Linked DNA regions of Homo sapiens. The protein of the gene in region 2 purifies or fractionates together with the protein of the main gene of each other region. This does not show direct contact. Each region holds a gene or a part of one and is shown on either strand. Other genes may lie near its edges.

What was found.
Region 1: the proteins of CLEC3B (region 2) and OTUD4 purify together in Homo sapiens (affinity purification with mass spectrometry; one large-scale study listed by BioGRID and IntAct). This does not show direct contact.
Region 3: the proteins of CLEC3B (region 2) and OSTF1 purify together in Homo sapiens (affinity purification with mass spectrometry; one large-scale study listed by BioGRID and IntAct). This does not show direct contact.

Annotation. Positions count from the first base shown.
Region 1 is NC_000004.12:145,174,084-145,177,738, reverse strand, and holds part of OTUD4 (OTU domain-containing protein 4), read left to right. Parts: intron 1-2,994; coding exon 2,995-3,078; coding exon of another isoform or gene 3,079-3,099; intron 3,100-3,655.
Region 2 is NC_000003.12:45,032,778-45,036,432, reverse strand, and holds the end of CLEC3B (tetranectin), read right to left. Parts: intron 910-3,655; coding exon 509-909; 3' UTR 362-508; downstream 1-361. UniProt on the Homo sapiens protein: Tetranectin binds to plasminogen and to isolated kringle 4. May be involved in the packaging of molecules destined for exocytosis. Plays a role in retinal function.
Region 3 is NC_000009.12:75,126,468-75,130,122, reverse strand, and holds part of OSTF1 (osteoclast-stimulating factor 1), read right to left. Parts: intron 3,647-3,655; exon of another isoform or gene 3,621-3,646; coding exon of another isoform or gene 3,618-3,620; intron 2,555-3,617; coding exon 2,504-2,554; intron 1-2,503.

The DNA.
Region 1 (3,655 bases), on a different chromosome or scaffold from region 2:
ATTTAGATAGGCCATTTCCTTTTTACACTTACGGATTTGGGCCTGCCGGAGGCCTGACCTGAATCAGCTCCACAGCCATGGAGCTAAAAATAGGGCAGTCTTGGAGGACTTGCTAAAACAGTGTCTCAGCCTTTCCCAGTATTTATCACTATCTTGTCCCAAGTAAAAATGGGAAAGCCTTCTAGTTTGCTTTCATGTATATATTAATTTGCAGAGATATTTGTCATACTACTTTAATTCTTTCGAAGTGTTATCAACCTTGCACAATAATTTACATTTTAGACAGTTGTCATTTAACCTTGCTTTTCTTGCAGTGCTTGACTTTGTGAATTACCAGCACTCTCACACTTTATAGAAGTTGCTAAGAGTTTTGCTTCTGAGCAACAGGTTCAGATAGATTGTATGTGCCAAAATCTTTGTTAAAAGAGAAGAACCAGTAGATATGCCTACCATTGCTTTTGATTGAAAATAAGCTTTACTAACTTATGTTTGCCACCTGTTGCTAGGTAAATGGCTTTAAGACTAGCTCCACGTTGCTAATGGCAGAGGAAAGCCCTATCAGATGACACTGTGGTTTATTCATACGAGTAATACCTTGATTCATGATAGTGTCTAACATAGCTTCTGTGAAAGAAGTGTTGCTAAATGTCATTTGTTGAATTGGCAAAAAAATTCTACGGTGGTTATTTTTATATATAGATAGTCCTTTTTGGTCACATACTCTTAGAATATATAAGAATATAGTTTAATAGTGTCCAAGAACAGCAGTGAAGGTAGAATCAGTTAAACTGAAAACCAGTTATTACACTGAAAACAAACTAATTGCTAACCTCAACAGGTGCATTTTCAGTGTATCTCAGCGTAATAGGACATACTAGGCGTCCAGGCAGTTGTGCCGGTTCTGTGGGTATAAATGAGCCTTGGTTGTGATCCAAGAGAGCTGTAGAATGCACAGCTGGAGCCTCCCTTTTCCCAAATGCTCTACTCATGCTAAACGTAAAGGGAGAACCACTCAATTGGATCTGTAACTTTTTTTTTTTGAGACAGAGTCTTACTCTGTCACTCAGGCTGGAGTGCCCTGGCACGATCTCGGCTCACTGCAACCTCTGCCTCCTGGTTTCAAGCCATTCTCCTGCCTCAGCCTCCCAGGTAGCTGGGACTACAGGCACGCACCACCACACCTGGCTAATTTTTTTTTTTTTTTTGTATTTTTTAGTAGAGATGGGGTTTTCACCATGTTGACCAGGCTAGTCTCAAACTCCTGACCTCAGGGGACCCACCCTCCTCGGCCTCCCAAAGTGCTGGGATTACAGGCGTGAGCCACAGTGCCCGGCCAGGATCTGTAACTTTTAAAGATACTTTCTATTAATATAAATTCTCAAGAGGCCTTGATGGTAGTTTGAAATGTGTTACTTTAAGTGTGTCTGAGTTTTTTTTTTTTAAACCATAACCCTTTACGGTACAGGAATATCTTTATTTGAGATACCCAGTAATAGAAAAGAATTTTAATCTCCTTTAAGCATGTTAAATAATTGGGAGCTAGGGCCGGGCGTGGTGGCTCATGTCTGTAATCCCAGCACTTTGAGAGGCCCAGGCGGGCAGATCACCTGAGGTCAGGAGTTTGAGACCACCCTGCCCAACATGGTGAAACCCTGTCTCTACTAAAAATAGAAAAATGAGCCGGAAAAAAAAAAAAGAAAGAAAGAAAAATTAGCCGGACATGGCAGCTCCTGTAATCCGGCTACTCGGGAGGCTGAGGCAGGAGAATCGCTTGAACTTGTGAGGCGGAGGTTGCGGTGAGCTGAGATTGCACCACTGCACTCCAGCCTGGTGGGGGAAAAAAGAATTGGGAGCTAGCTAGAAGGAAGCATTGGATAAGAAATAGTTGTTTCAGGCTGGGCACAGTGGCTCATGCCTGTTGTAATCCCAGCACATTGGGAGGTCGAGGTGGGCGGATCACGAGGTCAGGAGTTTGAGACCAGCCTGGCCAAGATGGTGAAACCCTGTCTCTACTAAAAATACAAAAATTAGCCAAGCGCCGTGGTAGTTGGCTGTAATCCCAGCTACTCAGGAGGCTGAGGCAGGAAGATCGCTTGAACCTGGGAGGTGAAGGTTGCAGAGAGCCAAGCTTGCGCCACTGCACTCTAGCCTGGGTGACAGAGCAGGACTCCGTCTCAAAAAAAAAAAAAGAAATAGTTGTTTCAATTCACAGCTTTAGAATTTTGGTAAAAGACCACATGCCAGTAAGTTATCTTTTTGTTGAACTGGTTGTTTAATAGAAGAAAATGTAAACTGCAGAGTGAGAGGATCTGGATCATACTTTGTAGGTTGGTACTTTACAATTTAGGGCATAAAAACAAACCCCAAACCTCTTGGGATGATACCACACAACATTTTTGCACCCCCTATGCTGCCTACTTGGATGTTCTTTCTTGTCTTATAAGCTTGATCACCAAGGAAAGAATGAGTGCCTTAATTTTTCTGAAACCATAGTGGACTTAAATTTTTACACAGAGCCTCTAAGTGGATTCAGAATTAATGGGAAAAATAAATCGGCCTCTTACAGGCTGAAAGCCTCAAAATACATTCCTACAGAAGTTGCCAGTTTGTCTTTTTCAATATGTATAGGATGAAGTTGAGCGTGGCGTAGCATGGATTTTGTTAGCTCTTCTTTGTGAAGAGTAAAGTTATTGTGGAGGGAAGGCCAAGGGAAGAGAGTGTCCTAAATTTACAAAAATGTCCTAAAGGAGAAAGGCTAATAAATTCTTTACAAATTTGGCTTAAGAAGTAGTATTGTTTGTATATGTCATGTCTTCGCTGTGCTTAGTTAGAAGAAGAGGTAGGAATGAGTAAAGATATCGAAATTATAGAAAGGGAAATGGAGAAAGACTGATAATCTATTGGTTGTCAGATTATTTTGGGTGTAAAAGAAGACATTAGGTTGTAACTTTTAACTAAATGCTTAATAGTGTGTTTGTTGCCTTTTCTTTTTAGGTATTGCACTCTCAGTCTCGCCATGTTGAAGTCAGAATGGCCTGTATTCACTATCTTCGAGAGAACAGAGAGAAATTTGAAGCGGTAACTTGTAATTTCAAACATGTAATGGTGTCTTGACTTGGTTTTACATTTTGGCTTTTAGAAGTGTTCTAGTAGAATTTCACAGGCTGGATCTTAATGCGGGTTATGAAAATAACACTTATTAAAAAAACTTCTCTATTGAACTTAATCTAGTTATATTCAGTTATGTTGTTTTCTAGGCTATTTTATGTTTTGCATTTATTTGGACATTTAGAAAGCTACTATGATGGATAAGACGCTGAGCTGTGGGGGATGGAAAGATGACCTGGACAAGGCCCTTGCATACTAAGAGTGGGCTTTGTCTGACATGGTCAGGGAATTGGGGGTGTTGTGATTAATAGTGGTTTCTGTGATGGGTAACTCCCTATAAATTAAAAGAAAAAAAATTCAGTCTGGGCATGGTGGCTCACACCTGTAATCCCAGTACTTTGGGAGGTGAAGAGTTCAAGACCAGCTTGGCCAACATGGCAAAACTCTGTGTCTACTAAAAGTAGTGGCATGGTGGCACATGCCTGAGTCCCAGCTACTCTTGAGTCTGAGGCACGAGGATTGCTCGAACCCAGGAGGCAGAGGTTGC
Region 2 (3,655 bases):
GGGCGGGGGGTGGGGGCGATGCTGGATTCCAGCAGATGGAAACGATTCTACAAAAAGAAGCCTGGAGCTTTGAATAGAGCTGTAACGTAAATAAAATATCGTGTCAGTGTTAGTTTCCTGGCTTTGGTAACTGTGCTGTGCTTAGCAGCAGACCGGGGCGTTTTCATCTCCCTATTCTTTCCCTCCTTCCTCTCCTCAGTCCTCCGCTCATTCCCACCCTCCTGTGGCATGAAGCGCGTGTGCTCAGCTCGCCCTCCTTCACCTCCTCCCTTCTCGCCTACTTCATCACGGAGGGAGCTTTCGAACCGGCTCCTGGGACCTCCTCCCCGCCCCGCGGACACAGCACAGACTGCAGCGCCTCTCCTCTCCGCGAAGCTGCACCAACTTTATTTGCAAAAAGAGGCTCCAAGCGCACGGAGAGGATGGGGGCTGCAAGGTCCCCACCCTCCTCCCGGCCTCCCGCGGCCCCTGCCCTCCTCCAGGCCCCCCACGGCCCCCGCCCCGCCGGCTACACGATCCCGAACTGGCAGATGTAGGGCAGCTGATCGCGGCAGCGCTTGTCGAACCACTTGCCGTTGGCCGCGCCTGACAGGACCGCGCAGTTCTCGGTCTTGCCGCCATCGGGTTGCGCGGTGATCTCAGTCTCCCAGTTCTTGTAGGCGATGCGGGCGCCGGTCATGTCCACCCAGGTGCCCTCGGCCGCCATGTCGTTGAGGCCCAGCCAGATCTCGGCCTCGTTGCCCACGCTCTGGCGCAGGTACTCATACAGGGCGTCGTTCTCCGAGCCAGTCTGAGGGGTGCCCAGGGTGCCCCCGCGCGAGATGCAGTCCTCGCTGGCCTCGTGGAAGGTCTTCGTCTGGGTGAAGGCCAGAAAGCATTTCATGTGCACCTTGGTCCCCTTCAGGCAGACTGGGAGTGGGGAGAAATGGCTGTCACCGAAGGTCCCCCTGTTCCCCAGGCAAAGAGCCAACCGCCCAGGCCAAGCCCACCGTCCTCCATCCCATCCCGTTTATCCCATCAGTCCTGACAGCCCCTTAGACCCAGGCAAAAGGGGTCCTGATGGTTCATGCACTTTGAGGACCTGGCTGTGGTGGCCACTAATGTACAGATCCAGATCCCCACTCAGGAGGTCTTGGTGCTCCCGCGGCTGGGAGAAAAGGCAGCCCTTGTGCTACAGAAGCACCCAGCCCCAGCTGACACCCCTTCCCAGGCCTCCACCTCAGTCATTTCTGGCCTTTACCCACCCCATCTCCTTGGGTCACAGAGGCTGGCCTGGTGCCTGCACTGCAGCTCAGCTCTCCCTCTGCCCACTTCCTCTTCCCCCCGCCCCCACATGTGTGGCTCCTAGGGCTCACCCTAACAAATTAGCTCTGTCTCAGAGTCAGCTTCCCAGGGAGCCCAGCCACAGCCACCTGCTCTGGTTCTCCTTCCTCCATGCCCCTCCCTAAGATCAAGCAGCTTGCAGGGCCAGGGCACCTGCCCACCTACAGCCTAGGCCACACTTCATGTACCCAGGGCCCCAAATCCCTACCCAAACAGCCCAAGCAAGCTTCCAGGGCCTGCCAAGTGCCTTTTGCAGGGTCAGTTCTCCTGAGGGCTGGTAGGGTGGGGCTGAGTGGATAGAGCTGAGACTGCAAGAGAGAAGACAGGAAGTGCTGGGCACAGGCTGTGGTCAGAGGCCGGCGATCAGGCAAGGGACTCTGAGGTGTCCACAAATTCTCAGTTTGAGCCTGGCCCCAAAGGTTGTGATGAAGGCACATATTTGGTCAAGTTAGGAGGATAAAATCTATTTTTGTTTTGCAGTTTGCATTTTCAGCTTGATTTCTAGCTGAAATATCTAGACATACTCTGATTTCTCCTGAGATCGTATAAATCGTTCACCTTTTACTAAAGATTTCTGTGGAAAGGAATATCTTGACAGACAGGTGTATGTCTGCATTTGTCCTCTTGCTGGTGACCCCACCACTTTGGGGGATGTCTGCACTCCCCTCTATCCATTCCCACTCAGTTACTTCCATTTCACTCAACAAATATCAATGGACAGCATCCCAGTGTCCCCATGGGCATCTGACACCACAACCGACTTTAAACATGGGGCCTGAAGCATTACAGAGGTGTCTACCCACAGACTCTGCCCCAAGTCAGCTGTCCTACCTCGTGCTATCCTACAGCTTAGCCAAGCGGCCTTCATTGCCTTTCCTTCCTGCTGGTAACACTGACGTGCTACCTAGACTTTTGTTGGGGATGAAGGATTCACTGCCCTGGCTGCCAGGAATGCTGCAGGAAGAAAGTCCTCAGCTTTCAGCCTCCTGCAGGGACTGCCTCAGCAGAAGACAGCCATCTCTTCCAAGGCCGTGCCCCTCCCTAGAGCAGCCTACACCCAAGACTGACCCATAAGCCCTCTTGCCCCGACTCAGGACAGTGCCGAAGGGTCATCCCGTCATCAGGGCTCCTGAAGTCAGCTGAGGCTTTCGTGGCACCACAGTACAGCTCGACTTCTCCTTCTGCCCACTCCTGCTTCCTTCCATCCCTTCCCTAGCACAGGGGTTGATCCTGAGGGTATCTCCTGATAAGTCTCCTGTGGGTTAAACTCCATCTCAGAGTTGCTTCCTAGGACCCTCACCTGAACCTCCCTCCAACACATAGGTAGTCCTCAGTCAATGCTACTTCTCGTGATACTATCATTGCTGCCAACATTTTGTTGCTCTGGTCTATTCATGATCCTGTCGATTTATGCTAGTCCTCCACACCTCTGCTCCTGCCCTGCCATCTGCTTGGAATCAACCCTCTTTATCTTCTCTGATTCCTACACAGCTTTCAAGGGCTCAAGTGATTCCATGAATATATTGAGGTTCCCAGGGAGCAGGGCCCTGGCTGCATCACCTCTGCCTCCTTGTGCCTGGCAGAGATGTACCAGGTGGGAACCTCCCATGTGTATGCTGGTTGGAGGAGGGAAAGGTTGCCCCCTGATTCCTTCAACTCTGGTTAGGTCAACAGAGCTCTGCAATGCTTTGGGTGGGTTTATTGAAAAGGTGATCTTTGGGTTGTGAGGACAATGAACAGGAGAAGGCCCCAAGAAGCCCAGCAGCTTCCTAGAAATCAGCAGACATGGGGGCTTTCATATGTCATGCTTTGGGCCTCCATATGTCATGAACTTTTTTCAGGGAGGTCCCCACCTCATTACCTCACCCCAGGTGGCAGTTGATGCCTGGGTTACATTGACTTTGCACAGCACAGAGCTTAGACATGAGAGAGACCTTAGAGTTTACCCTGCCTACCTTACAGATGAGGAAACTGAGGCTCAGAGTGGCACTGGGCTCATTCTAAACATACCCGCTGTGCCAGGCACTGTTGCCTCCAAATCCCTTCTCTCTTGTCCACCTCCACTATAGAGGCTGGAAAAGCTACATTCTTGCATTCTCAGATGTTCTTAAAGCTGCAGGTGGCCATATGATAGATTTCTTGTCAATGAGATGGAAGTGGAAGACTACGTTCCCTATAAATGAGACAGATGTGGTTGGGCTACTCTTCCTCCTTCTTGCCTTGAATGCACTCATGATGCCTGGAGTTGGGGCAGCCATCTGAAGACCATGAGGTGAAACTTCTGAACAAAAACTTATAACTACCTACTTGCAGACTTACTTTTTGTTTAAGC
Region 3 (3,655 bases), on a different chromosome or scaffold from region 2:
AATGACCATATATATACCCATTTCCCAACTGCACAAATCATTTATTAATGACCAATATTGTTTCATATATGCCCCCATGACGTCCCTCCCCTCCTGGATTATTTTAAAATAAATTCTAGACATCATATTATTTCATTTGTAAATATTTCAGTACGTATCTCTGAAAGACACATACTTTTTGAAAGGCAATTATAATGCCATTATCACAGCTTAAAAGTTTTTTCCAACAATAATTCCTTAATATCATCAAATATCTAGGTCGATACTCAAATTTCCCAACTGCCCCATAATTTGGGACTCAAATAAGGGCTATACAATATGATTGATTTGTCTTTAAGTATCTTTTAATCTATAGGTTGTCTCTCCATTCTTTTTTATCTCTTACAATGTATTTGTTGAAGAATCCAGTTGGTTTGTTCTGTAGTGTCAACCTCTATGGATTTTGCCTGTTGTATCCCTGTGTTATCATTAAGCATGTTCCTCTGTTCCCTGTATTGCCTATAAATTGGTCATCAGTTCTAGAGGTTTAATTAGATTCAGCTCCAATTTTTTTTGGCAAGGCTATTTCCTAGGCAGTATTGATTTCTTCCATTAGGAAATGCAAACTATCTAGTCGGCTTCTTTTTGTAATGTTAGTAGCCCTTGATGATCATTGTCTAGATCCACTATTTCCTAGAGGCTGCAAGATGGTGACATTCTAATTCTATCATTCCTTCTTCATTGAAATAACCTGAATACCTCTTTAAACAAAAACTTCCTCATCAGCTCTCAGATTGCCCAGGTAAGAAATTCATAAAGAAAACACAGAATAAATGGTGATTCTTTCCCTTAACAGTTGTCAGAATAAAAACCTGATTTCCTAGCATTCTCTCATGCTGACCAATGAGATTTCCTCAGAAGTAACATTAGAAACTCATAAATTTAAATGTATTTAATGGGTTTCAATTCTTGGAAGTTGTTGCCCTAATTGATGCTCAAATTGTCCTATCTTTGGCCAGTGGGAGTCTCTTCAAGTTCGTTCCCAAGTCCTTTCAGTGTGACCCTACTGTCTTTAGGAGCTTCCATGTTTTCTAATAAGAGGATGTTCTGGGTTTATCTTGTACCTCTGCTGCCCCTGACTTGGTACCAGCCATTTCTCAAAGAAGCCTGTACATTTCAATGGAAAATAACATATTATTATTGGGTTGGTCATTTTTCCTAGGCCCTTTCAAAGAACACAGCAGGGAATATTTTTGTTTTATTTTAGATAAAATACAATGTGATCCTTGCAATTCAGATGAAGGAATACAGAGTTTTTCTTAAACTGTCATTAATCTTACATCTGTGTATCCTTTTTGCTATGCTGAAAATCCGTTAGCAACATCACCGACCTAATTACTCATTTGCTCTAAACCACAATACACATGCAACAATCTCAGAATTAGCAATACCTACATTTCCCTAACAAGGGCATGATTTAAAACAATTTACCCTTTTTTGGCCATTTCTTTTTGTCCATATATATATATGGACAAAATATATATATATATATATATATATATGGACAAAATATATATATATATATATATATGGACAAAATATATATATATATATATGGACAAAATATATATATATATATATGGACAAAATATATATATATATATATGGACAAAATATATATATATATGGACAAAATATATATATATATGGACAAAATATATATATATATGGACAAAATATATATATATATATATATATATATATATATATATATATATATGTCTTTCATACATATCCATATTCTACTATGGATGTTCAGTCAAATTGCTGAGTTTTAAACTTGGAATATTTCCTCTCTGTGTGGTTAGGCCAATTACCAGGGTACAATTAAGTTCATTTGATTCATTCTGCTTTTAATTTTTAGGGATTGCTTTTTACTTCAATTTTTAACCATGTCAAGGTTTACATCAGTTCAAAGTCAAATCCACAAAACAAGGTATAATTTTCTAAAAAGTCTATCTTCCATCTATGTTCATTATACCCTATTTCTCTCCTTCCACCTAGAGAAAGGATCTTTACTCTTCATAGAATAAAACTAAATTTTACTTTGCAACTCATCTTTCAACTTTTTATCTGAAATTGAGAAAAACAAGTGTCTGCATGTATGTGTGTGTACACATACACTCTCACCCTTTCCTAGAAAACTGAGGATATATTATCTACATTTTCTCACTTTGCTTTTTTTTTCACTTAAATTACTTCATAATAGCATATAGAGATATTCCCCATTTCTTTCTACAGCTGCATAATATTCTGTTTGTGGCTAGACCAAAGCTTATTCAACTCTTTCCCTATTGATGGAAATAAGGGCTATTTTCAATCTTATGCTACTATCAATTGTGCTAAAATGAACAGACTTGTACATATGTATTTCTATGTACATATATATTTAAATAACTTACAATGTTATAGCTACATAAAACAGTCTTTATATGTGGTATTACAAGATGTTATCTGGACTTACCATGTCAGTAATGTAGATAATATCACCTTCCTCAAAGTATAATTCATCTGGCTAGAAGAAAAAAAAAAGTTTGACTCCATGTGATTTTTCATGAATTAGAATATGATTATATAGATTCAAAATTCTATCATATTCTAATAAGCAATGTGGTTTTATACACTTAAATCAGCACATAAGCCATATAATAAAACACTACTGAAAAATTAACACATGAATAGACGGCTAGATTTTTTTCCCATGATGAACTTCAAAGAATTACATATATAAAGATTCTCCACACACATCTTGCATTCTTCTACAACCAAAGCAAGACATTTGTATATCAAAATAGAGTATTAATAAAACTTCTTCCTTGTAGAAATTCTAAAAGGTGGTATACATTTTTTCATAAAAATATAAATGTCTAGAATTAGAGTCATGAAAAACAGCCAGAAGCTTGATTTTCTCTTAAACAAGGCCTCAATCCTTGAACACTTTAAGATCAACATCTGCTATCTGCTCATTTTAAGAAAATCATTATCCTAGCTCTTCATGTTCAGGGAGAATGAACATTTTCTGTATGAGAAAAGTTAATATGTAATTCAACCATTAATAAGGCTAAAGAGCTAAAAGATATGAAGCAGTAACTCAGCCAGTCCAGAAACCCCAAGCAGCTCTAAGGAGTTGGCTAATTACACAGACCATATGTGCTCTGGCCTGTACCAACCAAATGTTCTAAAAACTTTCTGAGGCCAGGTGCGGTGGCTCATGCCTGTAATCCCAGCACTTTGGGAGACCAAGGCAGGTGGTTCACAAGGCCAGCAGTTCAAGACCAGCCTGGCCAAGATGGTGAAACCCCATCTCTACTAAAAATACAAAAATTAGCTGGGCATGGTGGGGGATGCCTGTAATCATAGCTACTCGGGAGGCTGAGGCAGAGAATTTCTTGAACCCGGGAGGCAGAGGTTGCGGTGAGCTGAGATCACGCCACTGCACTCCAGCCTGGGTGACAGAGCGAGACTCCGTCTCAAAAAACAAAACAAAACAAACAAACAAACAAAAACAACCAAAAAACACTTTCTGAATAAAGATACACATTTTAAACATCTTTTGACCATCAGTAGATAACACTTACCATGACTTTGTAAGTAAGTAGGGTGATGCCTACCGAGA